Regions from separate parts of the Homo sapiens genome. Here region 1 is linked to region 2. The links come from fine-mapping of genetic effects on gene expression. Tissue or cell type: ovary. Region 2 holds a variant in brackets; the other region holds the start of a gene. All regions are shown on one strand. Distances are from middle to middle.

Region 1 (10,714 bases), 26 kb before region 2:
TGGTCTCGATCTCTTGACCTCGTGATCTACCCACCTCGGCCTCCCAAAGTGCTGGGATTAAAGGCACGAGCCACCACGCCTGGCGAGTCAACTATATTTTTAAAAAACCAGATTAATCAATAATGAAATTTTCACATATACAGCATAGACCTGAAACAAACATATGACTGACTCAGAACAGAAAGGCATTTAAAGACCTATTCTATCCTCACTGGGCATTCACTCCACGGCCCCAGTACGCTACCCGTCATTACCACCTGCACACCTGGACCTGTCTCAACCTCACAGTCTCTCCCAGACAGAAGCTAACCTAGCAGAGACGTCATGAGAGTTCCAAGGTTCATTTTGGGGAGTCTTGATTCCTTTTCAGGTCACTTGTAGGCACTAGAAAGATGCAGACCAGAAACAGCGAGATAACCAGGAGTTTCTTGAATTCAAATTCCTTCCACTAGTGCCTGAGGTTCTGGAGAAGAAGGCAACAGCTTCATAGCAAAAGGGAGTGACTAAGAAAGTGGCCCCAAGAAGAGGGCAGGAGATCTCTGAAAAAAGTTAAACTCCCAAAGGAAAAGGCAAGGATGGAGGGAAGATATGGGAAATATCTTTTGGACAGTGTCACTTTAAACAGATGGGTCTCCTTTCTCTGTGTAGCGCCAGGAAGTCCAGACTGTTGAGACAGAGTGAAGGGCTGAGAGGAAATCAAGATCACGTGGAAACTCGCTCACACAAGTCAAAAGATGCCCTTAGTTATCAGGTGGATTTCGCAATTTGTTTATAACGGTTGATTGAAGTTCATGAAAGCGCGCTGGATGGGGCGCGGGGGATTGAAATAAGTGAGCGCCCTAGTGTCCTGCCTGCGGATGATCATGAATCTGTTGGGCTGCGAATGGTTTAAAAAGGCAAAACAATCTAGGGGATGGATTTAAAGCTTCCTAGAGCATCATAATTTATCCCTTGTTTTACTGCTCAAATTGAGATGACTTCTGCTAAGAACAGTTCAGAGGAACAAAAACCATAGAGAAGTTACGGGTACTGGAAGCAAACCCACAATTTTTTGGGCACTAGAACCACACTCAAGCCCAACTAAGCTACCAATCATTCCACTGACTTGTCTTTGCTTCGAAAACATTAACTTCATCAACATTCTTCTCGTAGATAATCTTAGACCGGAAAGAAGTCCCTTCCCACCTTCCACCGCTGCCTCAATAAAAAGAATAATCTATTTTCGATTAAAACAAACAAACTTGGTTTTAAATCTTACTCATGGAGTAGACAAAGGATGCAGACGTTTTCAAACCTGCAGCTTCTGACTGCGTAATCCACGGAAATTTCTGACCCTCCTGAAGGACATCATGTCTATGCTCACCAGGGGTCTGACCCGCTGAACTTCAGGCAGCAGGCACCACTGCCCACAATAAAAAGATTCAGTTTCATGCCTGAAGGGATAATCTGGCAGCCTCTGGTCCTCTCTATTCAATGATTTTTCCTGGCGTATTTCAGTTCTCACTTTTCCAGCGTGTTCATGTTCGAAATTGGAGACTTTCTACCTGTTTGGTTCAGGTTTCTGGAGTCTAAGAAATTACATGAACAAATGGTATAGCCACTTTGGAAAACAGTTCAGTTCAATTTCTTTAAAAGTTAAATTTGATTTTAATATATGCTCTGGTAATTCCACATCTAGGTATCTACCCAAGAGAAATGAAAATGTATCTCAACAAAAAGACTAGTACACAAATGTTCATAGTGGCATTAGCCATAATAGCAAAAAGAGGAAATAAACCAAATGCACATTAACCAATTAATAGATAGCTCAAACATAGTATATCCATAAAACAGAATATTATTCAGCCATAAAAGGAAATGAAATGCTGATACCTGCTATAACATGGATGAACCTCAAAAACATTATGCTAAGTGGAAGAAGCCAGACATAAAAAAGCATGTATTGTAGAATTCCTTTTATATGGAATGTTCAAAAAAGGAAAATAAATATATAGAGAAAATAGATTAATGGTTGTCTATGGCTAGGAATAGAAATGGGAATTCACTGCAAATAGGCATGAAGAGACTTTTTGGGGGTTACTGAAAATGTTCTAAAACTGGATTCTGCTGATAGTTAAACAAATCTGTAAATCTACTTAAAAAATTAAAATTTACACTTAAAAACAGGTGAGTATTATGGTATGTAAATTATACCTAACAAAAGTGATTTTTTTTAAAAAAAGAGTTCAAGAGTCTTCTACAGTGGCTGTTTCCTTTTACATTTCCAATGCTTGTATTGCCTATCTTTATCAGAGCCATTTTTGTCAATATGAAGGATTATCTCATAGTTTTAATTTGCATTTTAGTGGCCGGGTGCAGTGGCTCACGCCTGTAATCGCAGCACTTTGGGAGGCCGAGGTGGGTGGATCTCTTGAGGTCAGGAGATCGAGACCAGCCTGGCCAACATGGTGAAACCCCATCTCTACTAAAAATACAAAATAGCCGGGCATGGTGGCGTGCACCTGTAATTCCAGCTGCTTGGGAGGCTGAGGCAGGAGAATCACTTGAACCCAGGAGGCAGAGGTTTTAGTGAGCCAAGATCATGCCACTGCATTCCAGCCTGGGTGACAGAGCAAGACTCTGTCTCCAAAAATAAATAAATAAATAAATAATAATTGCATTTTAGTAACGACTAATGATGTTGAGCATCTTGTCATGTGCTTATTGGCCATTGGTGTATTTTCTTTGGAGAAATCCCTGTTCAAACCCTTTTTCCATTTCCAATTGTGCTATTTGTCTTATTATTGAGTTGGGATAAACATCCCTGTCTTTCCAGTCTAGCAATTAAAACAACTAAGTAAATTCGTATTTATCGAAAAATAAATTTAGAAATTTATTAATACATTTTTTTAAATATAGGTTCTTACTGTGTTGCCCAATATGGAGTGCAGTGGCTATTCACAGGCTCGATCACAGTGTACTGCAGCTTTGAACTCCCAGCCCTCTCGTCCCAGCCTCCCAAGTAGCTGAGAATACAGGCATGCACCACCACACCCAACTTTAAATTCACTTATGTATTAAGGTTTTAAAAGACCCTTACGGCAACATATCAGTCCTTTTTTTTTTTTTTTGAGATGGAGTCTAGCTCTGTTGCCCAGGCTAGAGTGCAGTGGCATGATCTCGGCTCACTGCAAGCTCCACCTCCCGGGTTGAAGCGATCCTCCTGCCTCAGCCTCCTGAGTAGCTGGGATTACAGGCGCCTCCCCACCATGCCCAGCTAATTTTTGTAATTGTACTAGAGACAGGGTTTCACCATGTTGGCCAGGCTGGTCTCGAACTCATGACCTTGTGATCCAGCTGCCTCGGCCTCCCAAAGTGCTGGGATTACAAGCGTGAGCAACTGCGCCCGGCCATATATCAGTCTTTAAATAAAAGCCAAAGCCCTTTCTATGGCTTGCCAGCAGGGTTGAATCTCTGATTACTTCTCTCTTCTCATCTAATTCAAATTCCTTCATTGACTTTCCAGCCCACTAACTGTTGATGTTCCTTGGTGGTGCCAAGCAGGTTTGTGACTCAGAGTCTTTGCACCTGCTCTTTCTTGGGCCAGAAACCCTCTGACTCCAGATAACCTCATGCTCCCCCTGGCTCCTCATTCTTACCTCAAGTATTTTTTTCCCTGCCTTCCTCCCTCCCCACTCACTCCCTTGCCTCAACTCTTAGGTCACATTCTTAGGGAATTCTTTCCTGAGCAGAAAACTAATTCATTAATTAATCAATTTATCCATATAGCCTTTTGCTCACTGCATATTCATTGAGAACCTTTCAAGTGCCTTGAAGTAGTTTGGGTGTTATGGGTACACCAGTGAACAAAACAGACAAAATTGCTTCCCAGAATAAGCTTACTTCCTGGGGAATGGTTTGGGAGAGAAGTGCAATAAAATGTCATCACTATCAGGGAGTGACAACAGAAGGATCAGGGGACAGGGTCTCAGGTGTTGTGCCATTTATAAGGGTGGTCAGGTAAAACCCATTTGGTAAGATAAAATATATGAATGGGGAACTATAGGAAGTGATAAAATAAGACTTGCAGATATTTGGAGGAAAAGCATCCTAAGGAGAGCAAAAATTCTAAGGAAGGAGTGAGTCTTGTGAAATATGAAATAGTCCAATGCAGTTGGAGCAGTGAACCCAGGAGGGGTAGGAGATGAAATCATGACAGTATATACAACAGGGGGCCAGGTCATACAGAGTTTTAAAAACTGTTTTCAAAACTTTAGATTTACTTTGAGTAAGATGGGGCATCAGGGAAGTGTTCTAAACCAGGGAGTGAATGATTGTGAATGATTGGGCTAATATTTAATTCTGTCTCTCTGTCTGCTGAGTGTAGAATAAATCATGAGGCAGAAACAGGGTGACCAGCTAAAAGCCTTCCATGATATCCCAAGTCAGAGATGATGGTGGCTCAGCAGTGGTAGCACTGAAGGTAGTGAGAAGTCATCAGATTCTGGATATATTTTTTAAATTTATGGGAATAACTTTTTAAATGTACAATATTTCTCATAGTGATAAGTCCCATGAAAAAGAATTAGGAATAAAGTTTGAAAAGGAATAGAAGAGGGCCATAGGTTTGGCAATTTTTAAAAAGCTGACCATGGAAGACCTTTCTGAATGAATGACCTTTGAATAAAGATCCAGTTGAAGTGAGGGAGCAAACCACGTGGGTATATAGGGAAATCACAATCCATAGGGTGGGAACAACAAGAATAAGAACCCTAAGGCAGAAGCAAGCCTGGTATGTTCAAAGAACTGTAAGGAGTCTATGGACAGTGTGAGATTGTGGGTCAGAGAAGCTCGGGACAGTGAAGCAGAGCAGAAAGTGAGGGGGCTGGAAAATAGACAAGGTGAGATTGGGGGACAAAGAGATGAGTATGGAGAGAAAGACTGAAAAAGAGATGGGGGACTGAGAAAAAAGAGACGGAAAGACTGAGTGTGGGAACAACTGAGGGGTACTGAAGATATGCTGAGGGGCAGAAAGAAAAGACTGAGAATAAGTGGGCAACTGGGGTTCCAGAGGAGGTGCTGAGGTGGGGAGAGACAGAGGTTGAAGGACAATAAGGCATGCAAAGGAGGAATCTGAGATAAAGAGAAGGTAGACCGAAGAGCGGAGAGGAGGAGACTGAGACAGCGAGGGCTACTGAGAGCTGAGGGAAGAACAGACTGAGAGGCCCAGAGAGAAGAAACTGGGAGTTCCGATGCTGCATCAGCAGCCTCTGTGTACAGACTCTGGCGTCCCTGCCCCGCTTTAGCAGTTCCTACAGACGCTTGACCTGCCAGGAAAGGAAAGAAACCTGAGCCTCTGCTGAAAGGTGATGGATTTAAGGCCCGGCTGCTGAGGATAAGATAAAGGTCCTCCTGGGGGAGAACAGAGTCCCGAACACCATGGCCGTCTGGCTTGCCCAGTGGCTGGGCCCTCTGCTCTTGGTTTCCCTCTGGGGACTCTTGGCTCCAGGTAAGAGGAGGCTGAGGGTCAAGCAGGGCATCCTAAGGGGGCCAGCCTGACTTCCTTCCCTCCATGTCCCACAGCCTCCCTTCTTAGGCGCCTGGGTGAGCACATTCAGCAGTTTCAGGAGAGCTCTGCCCAGGGCCTGGGCCTGAGCCTGGGGCCAGGTGCTGCAGCCCTCCCAAAAGTGGGGTGGCTGGAGCAACTGCTGGACCCCTTCAACGTGTCCGACAGACGATCCTTCCTACAGGTGAGGCCGGGAGACGGGGAGTCCACTAACCATCCTGCCCTCTCCTCAGTCTCCCTCATCTCTTCCTCAGTCTGCACTTTTTTCTCTCTCCACACCTCAGTTCTCCCCATCCCTCTGCTTGAATCTCATGTTATGCTTGCTGTCAGTATCCCTTTTCCTGCCCTTTGTAGATTTGGCCTTACTCTCTCCTCTCCTCGGGGTCCCACTCGTTTTGTCCCTCAGATCTTGCCCTTCACCATTTCTTTCTCTCTGTCATTCACATTCACTGCTCCTCCCTACCCCCTTGTCCCTGTCCAGACTGGACACAAAACCTACCACCAGGTCTCAGTAGGTAGCAGAAATTTGAACCAGCTTTGGAATCAGACCTAGCTCACAACAGGCACTCAAAGATATCTATCGAAAGAAGGAACAAATTCGCCATTTTTCAGTGCTTCCTCTGTATTTAGTCTCCAAATATCATCCCACTTGGATCTTATTCCTAAATCCATCTGCATTTATTTCTTATTTTACAATTATTACTTCAAGAAATAGCAAGTTCCTTCAATGTGAGAGCCACTCCCTCAGTTCTGGGGATATAAGAGTGAAAAACCAGGTCAAAAATTTGCTTTTGTATATTTTGCATTCTAGATGAGGAGATGAACAGGGGAAAAGTGAGCAAGTAAATAAACAAGCTCATTTCAGACACTGTTAAGTACATAAGGAAAGATCCATTAGGAAGAGAGACTGGAACAAATGAGGAATTGAGAATAAGTCAGGACTCTCACAGTGCCATTTCTTCTTCCCCATCCCACCTCTCAGCGTTACTGGGTGAATGACCAACATTGGGTTGGCCAGGATGGACCCATATTCCTGCATCTAGGGGGTGAGGGCAGCCTTGGGCCTGGCTCAGTGATGAGAGGTAAGAGGCAATGTTGGGGGAAAGGAGTTGGGATGCTGGTGGGGACCAGGAAGGGGAGCTGCATATTGCAATGCTGTGAGACCTGAGGAGTGAAAGGGCTTAAACTCAACTTGCATCTCACCTCCCCACCCCCCACCCATACACTCTTCACAGGCCATCCCGCAGCCTTGGCCCCAGCCTGGGGCGCCCTGGTGATAAGCCTGGAACACAGATTTTATGGCCTGAGTATACCTGCTGGAGGCCTGGAAATGGCCCAGCTCCGCTTCTTGTCCAGCCGCCTTGCGTGAGTGGAGGAAGGGAAAGTGTTTATGGTCAAAGGACAGGAATGTCTGTGCTTTGGCATCTCTGCATCTGTGTCTCTCTCCTCCACTGTCTGAAGTCAACCTCTGAGTCTCTGGTTCCCTCTGTTTTCTTCTGTGTTTCATAGGGTCTTGTTTTTTCTCTTTCCATTTCTGGGTCTCTGACTCTCCCTATCTGTCTTTCTCTTATCCTGTGTTCTTTCTATTTCTGCGTCTCTGTCTGAAGTAAGCCACTGTATCACTGTGCAGACCACCAGCATTCCTTACCTGGATTACGGCCACAGCATTCTCACCATTTTTCCTGCTCTGCCCTTGACTTCCAGGTGGAAATCAGAGTAATTCTGTTAGAGCATAAACCAGGACATGATCCTCCCTGGCTTAAGTCCCTCAGACATCTTCTGTATTGCTTCAGAAGTAAAGCAATTTTGACTGTATTTGACTTCAGAGTAAAGTCAAAGCTTTTACAGTCGCCATGGAGTCCAGTGGGTTTTGGCCTCTAGTTAACTCTGACCTATACTCTCTCACTTTCACTGGGCTCCAGCTACATTGAAGTCCTCACTGTCCTCCAGACTTACACGCACATTCCTGCCTTGAGCCTTTGAACTCATCCCTCTGCATGGCGTGGCCTTCCCCTAGATGTTTTTATGCCTCTCACCCCAGCCTCCTTCAGTGCATCTCACTCCTATTAACGACCGCCACCATTTTTCCAACTTTACTTCACCTGCTTTTTGTTTCTTTCATCTGCTTTATTCTTACAGAACTTAGCTTTTTCTTTCCTCATTGGTATCTCTGTCTGTGTCTGTAACAGTCTGTTTGCCTGTCTCATTTTCTCCGTCTCTGTATCTACATCTGTGCCTCTTTGTCTCCATCTCTGTCTCTCTGCATCTTAATCTTTTCTACAAGCGAAACGGTTTTCTAACTGCAACAGGATGGTACCAACTGCAAGCCATTCAGAAAGGTTAGGGAAGAAAGAAAGCCCTTGGGAGGAGAAAGAGGATGTTAGACATATCCAAACTTCACTCTCCATTTCTCTTTGTGTCTGTTCTCTCTCCCAATACCTTGCAACTCATCAGGTTAGGACCCCTCCTTCTCCTCTTAGTAGCCCTCCTTGAGTGCCCTCAACCCTTCCCTACATTTGTCAGGTTTTCATCTAAACTGACTTGGAAATTTTTCCTCTCCTACCTAAAACGAGAAGGGAAAGAGGGTGGTGGCTTTCTAGAAAGTGGACGAGGACAGGGTCTCCCTTGGCCTAGGCACACATGTTCTGGGAAGTGTATGTGGCTTGGAGAACACTTGGAAACACGTCATGAGAAAACGGCCCTGGTTTCTGGCCAGATTCACCCATTCATGTCTCTGGATCCGGGTTTCCCCCAGAATGGGGAAATCTTCAGGGATTCCCAGCGATGAGGACCGACCGAGTCCCCCCTTTGACCCTAGGCTGGCTGATGTGGTCTCTGCCCGCCTGGCACTTTCCCGCCTCTTTAACATCTCCTCCTCCAGCCCCTGGATCTGCTTCGGAGGCTCCTATGCCGGCTCCTTGGCCGCCTGGGCCCGGCTGAAGGTCCTGCGACTCCTCCGGGTGGGCTGGGGGGAGGGAACTCGGACTCCAGGGCCCCAGTCTCAGATAATAGGAATACCCTCCCACCACGCCCCTACCTTCCTCCCGCGCCCAAAGAATTTTGCACAAGCTGTCCTCACAAGAGCCCGAGATTACACAGCGAGTAAGTGACACAGAGGCAGAAAGATATGCGATTCCAACCCCTCAGCCCGCAGGCTGACGGCGTCTCCTCCCTTAGTTCCCCCATCTCATTTTCGCGTCGGTCGCCTCCTCCGCCCCGGTGCGGGCCGTGCTGGATTTCTCCGAGTATAATGACGTAAGGATGGCGGGCAGCAGGTGCGGGACGGGGAGGGGTCCCAGCGGGCGGAGTCCCTTGACACTTCCGGATACCTTCCTCTGCGGTCCGCCCACAGGTGGTATCCCGAAGCCTAATGAGCACCGCGATCGGCGGGTCCCTGGAGGTAGGAGGTGGGGCCTAGTCCGAGGGGGACTGGGAGGGAAAAGAGGCCTCGGATGCCAGGGAAGAGGAGGCCAGAGAAGGGCGAAACCTGCAACGTGGCGGGGTCTAAGGAAGGTCGGAGCTCGGGGGAATACGCAGGTTTTGGAAGAAGGCGGGAGCTGACGAAGAGGAGGGGCACCAGGAAAAGAGGCGCTCCCCAGAGAGGGCGGGGTTTGGGCAGGGACAATCCTATCCGGAGGTGAGGCTCAAGGTGGGGCGGGGCCACAATGGAGGACGGGGCCTGCAGGGAAGACCCGAGAAGGAGGGCTGCGAGGCAGGGGATTGGGGGCGGGGGCCTGGGGGCGGGGGCCTGGGCCAAGAGCTAGGTCTGCACCCTCTGAGTCCCGCTAGGGGAAAGTGGGGAACCCAAGGAGGACGCAGGTCCTGGGTAGGGAAAGCCGAGGCCCAGCCTAAGTCTTGGCGGACATCGCCTCTTGCTTCCCACAGTGCCGGGCGGCGGTGTCCGTCGCCTTCGCTGAAGTGGAGCGGCGGCTGCGCTCGGGTGGGGCGGCTCAAGCAGCATTGCGGACGGAGCTGAGCGCTTGCGGGCCCCTGGGCCGCGCTGAAAACCAGGCGGAGCTGTTGGGGGCGCTGCAGGCACTGGTGGGAGGTGTAGTGCAGTATGATGGGCAGACGGGAGCGCCGCTAAGCGTGCGACAGCTCTGCGGACTTCTCCTCGGGGGCGGGGGCAACCGCAGCCACTCCACGCCCTACTGCGGGCTTCGTCGGGCGGTGCAGGTGAGCACTCCCTGGCACAGCTGGGAGGAGTTAGCGGACAAAGATTCCTGCCCCACTTCCGTTGTGTGATCTTGGGCAAGCGAGAACCTTCTCTGAAACTTCGTTTTCTCATCTGTAAAATGGGGATAACACTTCACAGGGCCGATGGGAAGATGAAATGAGGCGGGTCATGTAGAGCAATCAGCTGGGAGCCTGGCACACAGTGTGCGAATGTTAGAGACTGCGATTATTACCTATTTTGCCTATCCTGTCCTGTTCTCTTTTGGGGGGCCTGCAGGAGTGCCTGGCACATGGCAAATTCTCACTTAGTATTTTTAGAATGAATGAAAAAATGTTATCTCTGGGGATAGGGTTCTCCTAGGTACCTGGGACTGCAGCCTCTAAATCCACAACTGCAATCCAGCTGTCGCTTTTCCAGCACTGTCTGGACCAAGTGCTGTATAAAGTGCTTCACATATATTATTTCATTAAGTTCTCAAGAGATAGGCACTATTATTATCGCCACTTACAGAAAAGGAAACTGAAGTCTGAAAGATTATCACTTGCCCAAGCTCTCACAGGTAATAAGGTCTCAGTCTTCTAGTGCATTGATCTCTAACTCACAAGGACCCAGGCATCCACCCCCTCTGACCACTGACTCCCAGGAGAACTCAGGAACTCACCCTTCTATTTCTGACTTTTGACCTCTGGGGACATAGGCCTCTGCACCCTGGCTTGCTGGGAAGAGAGGAGGAATTTATGTCTTATGTATGTACATTGTTCCCTAGATTGTCTTGCACAGCCTGGGCCAGAAGTGTTTAAGCTTTTCCCGAGCAGAGACAGTGGCACAGCTGAGGAGCACAGAACCTCAACTGTCTGGTGTGGGTGACCGGCAGTGGTTGTATCAGACATGTACCGAGTTCGGCTTCTGTAAGTGACTGGCCTAACCCTAACTTTGTCCCCTCAAACAACCTTTTTACTATGCCCAGAGAAGTCATCTTACAGGTGGTCTGG
Region 2 (10,714 bases):
AACACCAGGGGAGCAGCCAATAAAAAAGCAGAGTACCCCAAACCCTCAAGGAATTCTATGACTGGTTCCAATTCCGATTCAGAAGATGAAAGTGCCATGAATTTGTTTTGTTTTGTTTTGTTTTGTTTGAGGAAAGGGCTTGAAATATAAAGCAAAACAAAGCAATGCTTGTAAAACGCATGTCAGTATTAGAAGCTTCTCTGGTTTGTTCCCCGGAAGACATTCCCCGCCAGGCCCCAACTCACAATCAAGGAGACCCCAAGGTAAACATTCCTGGATGTTTCTTCAAGGAGACATTCTGAATGGAGAGAGCTCGGCCTCTTAGAGGTCAAGGTCAGGATCCTCGGGTCCCTTGGCGCTCTACCTACGGAAGAGAAGGAAGAAAAGACAGAGGCTAAGTACATGTTGGTGAGAAAGAGGAAGATTGTGGACGGCTACATGAACGAAGTTGAGATGCTCAGAAATCGTCCCGCCAGATCACCCATGATCCTTCCACATATAATTCGGCCACCGGAAGAAATTACAGAGGAAGGTTTGGAGAACATCTGCAGCAACTCTCAAGAGAAGATATATAACCGTTCGCTGGGTTCTATTTGTCATCAATGCCGCCAGAAAACTATTGTTATCAAACAAACTGCAGAAACCCAGACTGTTGGGGCTTTCAAGGCCTGTTCTGCGGCCCCGACCTTAGAAACCCTTGTGGTGAAGAGGTCAGGAATACTCTGCTGGATGCGAACTGGCATTGTCCGCCTTGTCGAGGCCGTGCAACTGCAGTTTCCGCTCGCAGCGAGATAGACTGTGGGAAACTGGGGTCCTTGAATATTTAGCCAAATACAATGGCTTTGGGAATGTGCATGCTTACTTGAAAAGTCTGAAACAGGAATTTGAAATGCAAGCATAATATTGGAAAATTCACTGCCTGTCTTCCACTTCTCAAATCTCTCTTGCTGAAGTTTTCAATTTTGTCATTGCTTGAAACCTGAATTAAGAATCTTGGTGATCAGTCTGTTTTATAAGAAACTTCCATCAAGAAGCAAAACAAGAACAAAAACAAAAACAAAAAAAAACCTTCCATCAAGAATCTTGACAATCAGCCTCTTTATAAGAAGCTCCAATCAAGATAAATCTCAGTAGAGACATGTGTTTCTGGAGCATCACTAAACGAATATTGCTGGCTATACTTTCCCCTCCTACAGTTTTCTCCTCTGCTCCCCACAACCTCCAATTCATAGTACCCTTTTCTCTTTCCAATGGTCCTCTCCCCCTGCTTAGTTTCTGAAGTCTTTTTAAATGACAATTTTATGAAAGCATATTTGATTTAGTTGCAGTTGAAATAGCCCTGCAGTCCACTCATGAAACCTAAGCACTTAAAAACACAGTAGTAGTATTAATTAACTATATCTATTGAATTTCAGAGAACAGCCCTCTAACTTGTTTATGCAAAAACAATGGGTATGTGGGTTGGGAGCCATGGCTCATGCCTGTAATCCCAGCACTTGGGAGGCAGAGGCGGGCAGATCACCTCAGGTCAGGAGTTCAAGACCAGCCTGGCCAACATGGTGAAACCCAGGCTCTAATAAAAACATAAAAATTAGCTGGGCCTGGTGGTGGGTGACTGTAATCCCAGCTACTCAGGAGGCTGATGCAGGAGAAACGCTTGAAACTAGGAGGCGGTGTTTGCAGTGAGCAGAGATGGTGCCATTGCACTTCAGCCTGGGTGACAAGAGGGAAACTCCATCTCAAAAAGAAACAAAAAACAAAAAACCAATGGATATGATTTAGTGTTTATACTAGTTGATATTTTTAACAGAATCGAGGCACAAAAGTCTTAAAACCATGTGGGAAACTTAGGTAATTGTTGCAGAGTGTAGCATATTACTTCAGATGCCTCTCATGAATATATTCCATGTATTGTGCTTATGATACAAGTTGTCACATATGAGTCCTAGTTGCTGCTAATTTCTTCTGCCTTAAAGTTAAGTGTAGCATCTCCCTTACACAATCATGATCCAAAGGTTTGTGGGCAGTGTTATACTTACAATATAGATATATATAGATATATATGTCTATCATATTTATAGCCTATGTATGACTATATATGATATATACCAAATATGAGATATATATGATATATATGAGATATATATGATATATATGATATATATCATGTATGAGATATATATGATATATATGATATATATCATGTATGAGATATATATGATATATATGATATATATCATATATGAGATATATATGATATATATCATATATGAGATATATATGATATATATGAGATATATCATATATAGCCTATATAGACTATCATATATATAGTCTATATATGATAGACATATATGTCTATCATATATGTCATATAAAGTACTACCATTGTAATTTCCCAGGATATCTTTCGATGTCTTTCCTATACCATATAGGAAAGACATCCTGGGAAATTACAATGGTGAAACTTTAGGCGTAGGCTCATTGAATTCTTGGTATAAAACTTCATCATGGCCGGGCGCGGTGGCTCACGCCTGTAATCCTAGCACTTTGGGAGGCCGAGGTGGGCGGATCACAAGGTCAGGAGATTGAGACCATCCTGGCTAACACGGTGAAACCCTGTCTCTACTAAAAAATAGAAGAAAATTAGCCGGGCTTAGTGGTGGGCACCCGTAGTCCCAGCTACTCGGGAGGCTGAGGCAGGAGAATGGCGTGAACCCGGGAGGCGGAGATTGCAGTGAGCCGAGATCGTGCCACTGCACTCCAGCCTGGGCGGCAGAGCGAGACTCTGTCTCAAAAAAAAAAAAAAAAAAAAAAAAAAAACAAAAATCATCATAATTGTAGTTTGCCAAGTTTATTTCAGTTCACATGTTAAGTATTTCAAACAAATTCTTGGGCCATTTTGGGTGGAAACTTGATATTAATAACTAGTGTAGGGTTCTTTGCAGTTTCTTGAAAAAATTGTAGGCTAGGCACAGGGTTCATGTTTAGATTTTAAGCACCTTTATAACAATGAGAAGTTCTTTTTTGGAGGTGGGTAACTGTCAACAGTTTGTTAACCTGACGTCTCTGCTGATTTAGTTTCTGGGCAGAGTTCCTGTGTTGGCATTCTCCTTTTCTTTTGCATTAATCAAGTTGTTTGGTAGAGGTGGAATCTAAGTGTTTTTGTCTCAACCACCTGGGAAAATAGTTGTAAGTTGACCACTGTCTGATTTACAGAATATAATTTCTCTAAATCCACTCACATATTTTTCTTTCTTTCTTTCTTTCTCTTTCTTTCTTTCTTTCTTTCTTTCTTTCTTTCTTTCTCTCTCTCTCTCTCTCTCTCTCTCTCTCTTTCTTTCTTTCTTTCTTTTTTTTTTTTTTTTTTGAGACGGAGTCTTGCTCTGTCGCCCAGGCTGGAGTGGTGGAGTGGAAAGTGGAGTGGCCTATCTCACTGCAACCTCCGCCTCCCGGGTTCAAGCAATTCTCCTGCCTCAGCCTTCCGAGTAGCTGGGACTACAGCCGCACGCCACCACGGCCCGCTAATTTTTGTATTTTTAGTAGAGACGGGGTTTCACCATGTTGGTCAGGCTGGTCTCAACCTCTGACCTCGTGATCCGCCCGCCTCGGCCTCTCAACGTGCTGGGATTACGGGCGTGAGCCACCGCTCCCGGCCCACATATTTCTTATATAGATTTATTTCTGTTCTCTCTTTTTAAAATTTTCACTGAAAAAAATGCAAGTGTGCTTGGAATATGGATTTATACCTAAAAGGAAACTTTATATTACTTCCAATAAATAAGACGTATTAGCTAGTTCATAGAGAAAATAACGAAAAAGACAAATACAGTGAAAAATTGTTATTTTTTAAAAGGGTAACTGATTTACAAAATCAGATACATGAAATGATTCTCAGTGAAACTAAAGAAGTTCTCAGAGAATATAATAAAAATGCTAAATTCAATTTCTCCAAATACACTTTAAAATTAGAACGTTAACTGTTTGAAATGGTGAACAAAAGCCTTCTTATCTCGATACAATTGTAGGGTTACTAGGATTTTATAATTTTAGTATAAATAACATAAGATATAATTGAATTAGTGGCTAAATATTTATGCCATAATAAAAGCAACTAGGATACTCAATCTCCTGAGAATTTCAAACAAAACAGCTTTTAAAGATGTACACAAGCAACTCTTTCTAACACCACCACCGATAGAGGTAGAATGTAACTTTTACAAGAAAGGTAATTTAAAGGTAATCAGCGAACAACTTATCAAAAATCATCTAGTCCACAAGCGAGTTCACACAGATCACTGGTCTCCGTACCCTCTGTTGTGGGGAAGGACAGGGATGGCTTAAGACAGGGACTGAGCGGACTTGCTGTGGGGAACTCAGGTTCTGGGCGGGTCCCATTCATCCATTCGCAATCCCCTAGGCTGTGCCAGATGGCAATCACCCTTGGGACTCCTAGGTACAGAAGCTGGGAGGACCACCCAGATTCGCTTACCAGAAGATGCCCATAGAGCCCCGAGGCGAAGGTGTTCCAATTTCCTCAGGTGAAGGATATCTACTGGTGGCTACAGGGCACAAATAAAGAAAAAGTGCGTGGATGCCACGTACCAGTTCATGTCCAGCAGAGATCCGAATGCCCATTTTAGTTACATTTGACCCTCCAGACCCCTAGTCCCAGAACCTGCCCTCCCCCAAGCTCTCTCTCTACCTCTGTGCCCACTCCAATCAGTCAAACAGAGCATTCCAGGGCAAACCCAAAAGAAGAGCAGGCAATTTAGCCACCCTGGGGCTTGTAGCCTGAACTCTTCAGACATGTTGTCCCAGTCGGAGCCTGGAGACACAGCTCAA[C/T]ATCTGCTTGCCCCAAGAACCCTGAGGCTCCAAGATCTCCGGACAGCCCTGGAAGACAGGCCGCTGCACTTATATAATAACAGGGTCCTCTCTGGTGCCAAAAGCCTGCAACCCATAGCAGAAAATAGCTCCTCCAAATAGCTCTTCATCCTCCAAATAACTGGGAGATGATTCCAGTCAAGTTGGAATAACAGGGATCAGATTTACATTCCTGCTGTAAAGAACCAAAACCTAACAAAAAAGATGAAATGACACTTTTCAAGACATACAGTATTTGGTAAGGAAGAATAGTAACCCCTAATCACAGGGGAAAAAATGAATGATTGGAGAGAGGGGGAGGTGAACAGTAGGATTAGCCCCTAACTAAGGCCTTGAATTTCCAGGCCCCAATGCAGAAAGGCAGAACCCAAGCAGAGCCTGGTGGACTCCCAGAGTTGATGAGGAGTTGATAGACTGGGAGACTGGGGCAGCTAGAGTGAATATGATAGCATACCAGAAAGAAGAGAGCTGTAATAAGAGATAACTCCAGAAAGAACTTCTGAAGTATTCAGCTTAATATTCATGAGTATGTGCAGGTATGGAACCTATACAGGACAGAAAAGACTACCCAGAATGATCAGAGGTAATATGATATTGAATTGTCTAAAGTAACTAAGAAATTGTTTCTCCTTGTGAGACAAACAGGAATTATATTGCTGAATTTAATGCTTTCACCACAAAAAAGGATGAGGGTCTAGATTAATGGGGAGGGGGAGTGGTGTGGGGGAAGAGACCCAAAATGTTGGCTGGTTAGTTCAGTTGGTTAGAGCGTGGTGCTAATAACGCCAAGGTCGTGGGTTCGATCCCCATATCGGCCACATATTTTCCTCAGTACTTTTTCTCGGTAGTTCTAGAGAAACTCGTCGGTTTTCAGCCACCAAAGAGCTAAGGATAATTAACAATGCAACTCGTCGGTTTTTAGCCAGCGAAGAGCTGAGGGTGATTAACAGTGCTCTCAGATGGTACAAATTCCCTGCCATCATTTCTTAATCTATCTGAAACCTAACTCCATCCCCGAATCACCCAAATTTCTACATCTCCTCAGGTAAAGTTCTTATTCTTTTCTTCCAGGTGTAAGGGCTGGGGACAGAAAGCTGTTCAGGGCAGAGGGCCCAAGATCGGGAGTCCTGCCGAAGGAAACAAAAAATGAGAAATTAGAAGATTATTGGCGTCTTAAAAATTATTTAAATAAAGCTTACTTGATTTCAAATTGTCCTTCCAAATTTCTATTGAAACCAACCTTGTTTCTCAAATTGACAAGAGATACAAGATAAAGAGAAGAAATATTGAATTGCCCTTTCAAGTTGGAAGCAGTATGCAAGGTGCATGTTTATTAATCACAAGAGGCTAGATTCGACTCCTTTCTAGCTCATCCTTTCCTAAAAACAAAACAAGAAACCAAACCAAAACAAAACAAAACACACCAAGTCTGTGTTCCATGTTCAAAGCGATAGCTTCCTCTCAGGGCAATCTTTTCTGTCAGTTAAATCTAAAAAAGTCTTCAGAGACATATAATAACAATCTCCTAAGAATTTGTTCTCTCTATCTTGTATCTCTTGCCAATTTGAGAAAGAAGGTTGGTTTCAGGAGCAATTTGGGAGGACAATTTGAAATCAAGTAAGCTTCATTTAAATAATTTTTAAAAAGCCAGTAATCTTCTAATTTTTTTTTTCTTTCATTAGGCAGAGCTCCCAATCTTGGGTCCTCTGCCCTGAACAGCTTTCTGTCCCCAGCCCTAACACCTAGTGGAAAAGAATAAGAACTTTACCTGAGAAGATGTAGAAATTTGGGTGATTCGGGAATGGAGTTAGAATTCAGATGGATTAAGAAATGATGGCAGCGAATTTGGACCATCTGAGAGCATTGTTTATTACCCTCAGCTCTTCACTGGCTGAAAACCGACGATTTGCATCGTTAATTATCCGTAGCCCTTCGCTGGCTGAAAACCGACGAGTTTCTGCAGAACTGCCATAAAAAACTACTGGGGAAAATACGTGGCCAGTACGGGGATCGAACCCGCGACCTTGGCGTTATTAGCACCACGCTCTAACCAACTGAGCTAACCAGCCGACGCTGGGTGCAGCTCTTCCCCCCCCACCCCCCGCCCTTAATCTCGACACTCATCCTTTTTTGGGAAAGCATTAAATTCAGCAATATAATTCTTGTTTGTCTCACAAGAAGAAACAATTTCTTAGTTGCTTTAGATTCTTAATAAAAAGAATGAGAAACTTTCTCTTAAAACAAAAACAAAACAAGGAAATAACATTTTTTATTTATTTATTTTTATTATTTTATTTTTTAAGCCGTGTTCCTAGAGTTGAAAGAGGACGCTTAAAAATTTCAAACTGCGGCGAATAGTCCAGGAATCCATGGAAACATTTGTTGCTTTCTAAATGTCTGGTAATCAGTACGTGCAGACAATGAATCAGACTCGGTGAAATATTAGCGAGTCCTTGTTTTGTAAGAGCCGTTCACTAACACAACCCAGAAATTGGCACCTGAAGGATATTCCCGACGAGTCTGTTTTCGATGGTCCCACCGTCGAGATCGTCCCAGGCAGGTTTCTCATGCCCGGAGCCTCCATTTGGAAGTTTCCCTACCTGTTGCCTCAGATTTCCAGAGTGACCTCAAATCAAAGCCCACTTTGAAGACCTTGGTATTGGAGAATTCTAGAAATGTGGCTCTACTCACCCTTCAGGGACGGTTAAACCGATCTTTCTACCCAGCCATTGTCTCCTAAAAATATTACAATTGTTTTTAATATCTTCTTTATCGTTCCAGAGATTTTTAACGCATAGCCAAAGTTAAACAAATGTTTTCTTTTTTCTCTTCACAAATAGTGGCATTTTATCTACTTTTTAAATCCTTTGCTTTTTTTTTAACTCAGAATATATTTTTGCAATTCTTTCATATCACAACAGAAAAGTGTTCATTCTCTTTTAAATATGCATAGTATTCAGCTATATGAGTATATACCATAGTTTAATAGGCATAGCTTAGACTTCCATCCTCCTATTGCAAATTTTTGGTATCTATGAGCATACACCGTATCTGATGTATGCCATGATACTTCGCACATGTGGAAAGGCTGCATCAAAGAACATGTACATTGGCAATTTTGATGGCCATTGTCACACTGTGCTTTAGAGGGTTGATCCCAATACTCTTTTTGCTTGCTTGTTTGTTTTAACTATACTTAGCACTAATATGATCCTGAACACATTTCTTTTCTTTTGCTTTTTTTTTTTCCGGTGAGACGGAGATTTACTTTTGTTGCTCAGGCTGGAGTGCAATGGCGCGATCTCGGCTCACTGCCTCCCAGGTTCAAGCGATTCTCCTGCCTCAGGCTCCCGAGTAGCTGGGATTACAGGCATGTGTCACCACTCCCGGCTAATTTTGTACTTTTAGTACAGACGGGGTTTCACCGTGTTGCCCAGGCTGTTCTCGAACTCCTGACCTCAGGTTATCCGCCCCCTTGGCCTCCCAAAGTGCTGGGATTACAGGCGTGAGCCACTGCGCCCGGCCAATCCTGGACACATTTCTACACCTTCTTCCTGAATTCCCTGCTACAAATTCGAAGCGAAACTAGGCAATCGGTATGTAGATTGTCTAGTTGGGGCATACTAGATTCTGGAACATTGTTTTGGGGGTACAAGTAATGACGTAAAGGGAATGTGATAGAATCAGGCGGGAGAAGGAAGGGGCTGAGGGGACAGCACGGAGAAGGAGCCAACAGTGGCCTTATTTTGTGCACCTAGGAGAGTACAACACGGGCAGAAACACCTGAGGGACAGGAACTAAGACACGTCATTCTGTCTGGAGATTAAGACTGAGCTGCAGAGTGGTACAGGGCGAGTAGTAGGAGATGAAGTCTGAGGAAGAAAGAACATTTATCAATACATGATGCAAAACCCTCTAGTAGATTACTATAAATGAATCAGAATACTTGATGGTAAGTGGATGGGGCACTAAAAATAAATTGGCCGGGCGCGGTGGCTCACGCCTGTAATCCCAGCACTTTGGGAGGCCGAGGTGGGAGGATCACCTGAGGTCAGGAGTTAGAGGCCAGCCTGGCTAACATGGTGAAACGCCATCTCTACTAAAAATGCAAAAATTAGCTGGGCTTGGTGGCGGGCGCCTGTAGTCCCAGCTACTCGGGAGGCTGAGGCAGGAGAATGACGTGAACCTGGGAGGCGGAGCTTGCAGTGAGCCAAGATAGCGCCACTGCACTCTAGCCTGGGCGACAGAGCAGGACTCCGTCTAAAATAAATAAATAAAAATAAAAAAGGAATTATCAGGTGTTAATTGATCTACATTAAGTCTAAACTAAGAACTATGATCACTATAGGCCAAGTTAAGGATTTTTGAATTGGTCTTAACAACAATGGGAAACTATGCAAGGATTTTAGGCAGAAAAGTCACATGGACGGATTCACATTTTTAAAATTTGTTTATTATTTATTTTTGAGACGGAGTCTGACTCTGTCTCCCAGGCTGGAGTACAGTGGAGCGATCTCAGCTCACTGCAACCTCCACCTCCCGGGTTCAAGCGATTCTCCTGCCTCAGGCTCCTCAGTAGCTGGGATTACAGGCATGCGCCACCACACTCAGCCATTTTTTTTTTTTTCGTATTTTTAGTAGAGACGGAATTTCGCCATGTTGGCCAGACTGGTCTGGAACTCCTGACCTCAAATGTTCCACCCGCCTCGGCCTCCCAAAGTGCCGGGATTACAGGTGAGAGCCACCGCGCCCAGCCAGATTCACGTTTTAAAAAGATCTCTTTAACTTTGTGTAACAACCGCACAGGTCCAGTTCTAGACACTTGACAGGCATCAGGGAACTATAGCAACACATCACTAGTACCGGGCCAATGAAATATCTGCCCTCATAGAGTATGGAAACAGATATAAATAACAAACATAATAAAAATGTGAATTATAAAATGTGTAAGAAGGTGTTAAATGTGATTGGTAAATAGAGGCAGGTAGGAAGAACTGGAGTGATGAGAGTAGGTTGGAAAGCTAGAGTTGTTAGTATAGCCTTAATAAGATTGTGACTGGAAGAAAAGGAGCAATCAAGCCACCTGACATGTGAGGTGTCACAAGCAGAGTACAACCACTATAAAAGTCTAAAGGTGGGTACTTGCATGGAATGTTTGAGGAACAGTAAAAGGGTTCATGTGGCCAGAGTACAAGAGAGGGAGACAGTAATAGAGATGAGATCAGAGAGAAATGAAGGATCGGAGTATATAGGATCTTGTAGGAGATCTTAGGAATTTGGCTTTAATTCAAGTAGAACGGGAAGCTATTGTATAATTCTGATTTTAGGAGAGGCAAATCTGATACATGCTTTAAAATACTGCTTTTAGTAGGTCTTTTGTAAATAGACTATAGGGGACTATATTCGGTTTTATATTCAGATTGCATTAGCCGGGCGCGGTGGCTCACGCCTGTAATCCCAGCACTTTGGGAGGCCGAGGCGGGCTGATCACGAGGTCAGGAGATTGAGACCATCCTGGCTAACATGGTGAAACCCCGTCTCTACTAAAAATACAAAAAATTAGGTAGGCGTGGTGGCAGGCGCCTGTAGTCCCAGCTACTCGGGAGGCTGAGGCAGGAGACTGGCGTGAACCCGGGAGGCAGAGCTTGCAGTGAGCCGAGATCGAGCCACTGCACTCCAGCCTGGGCGACAGAGCGAGACTTCGTCTCAAAAAAAAAAAAAAAAAAAAAAAAAAGATTGCATTAGGTTATTGTATTCTATGAGAAACAGACTCCAGGATATAGTTTTCATGAAGGAAGTCTATTGTGTATCCAGGAATGATATACAAAAG

The links. PIP is the estimated chance that this variant, and not a neighbour inherited with it, causes the effect.
Region 1: it holds the start of PRSS16, and the variant in region 2 is fine-mapped to the expression of PRSS16 in ovary (GTEx, PIP above 0.99).

The regions. Positions count from the first base shown.
Region 1 is chr6:27,242,320-27,253,033 of GRCh38, forward strand. PRSS16 (serine protease 16) reads left to right here and starts at 5,382. Exons shown (of 12, transcript NM_005865.4): 1 at 5,382-5,488; 2 at 5,563-5,729; 3 at 6,528-6,627; 4 at 6,781-6,910; 5 at 8,364-8,487; 6 at 8,723-8,800; 7 at 8,898-8,945; 8 at 9,431-9,721; 9 at 10,489-10,630. The coding sequence starts at 5,419. RefSeq lists enhancers at 8,433-8,482, 8,613-8,682, 8,823-9,192, 9,463-9,983, 9,573-9,742 and 1 more.
Region 2 is chr6:27,268,332-27,279,045 of GRCh38, forward strand. It overlaps TRI-AAT9-1 (tRNA-Ile (anticodon AAT) 9-1), which reads left to right and starts at 5,629; the gene lies at 5,629-5,702. TRI-AAT3-1 (tRNA-Ile (anticodon AAT) 3-1) reads right to left here and starts at 6,953; the gene lies at 6,880-6,953. It also overlaps the pseudogene CDCA7P1. RefSeq lists a silencer at 8,151-8,321. The variant C/T (reference allele first, on the strand shown) is at 4,846.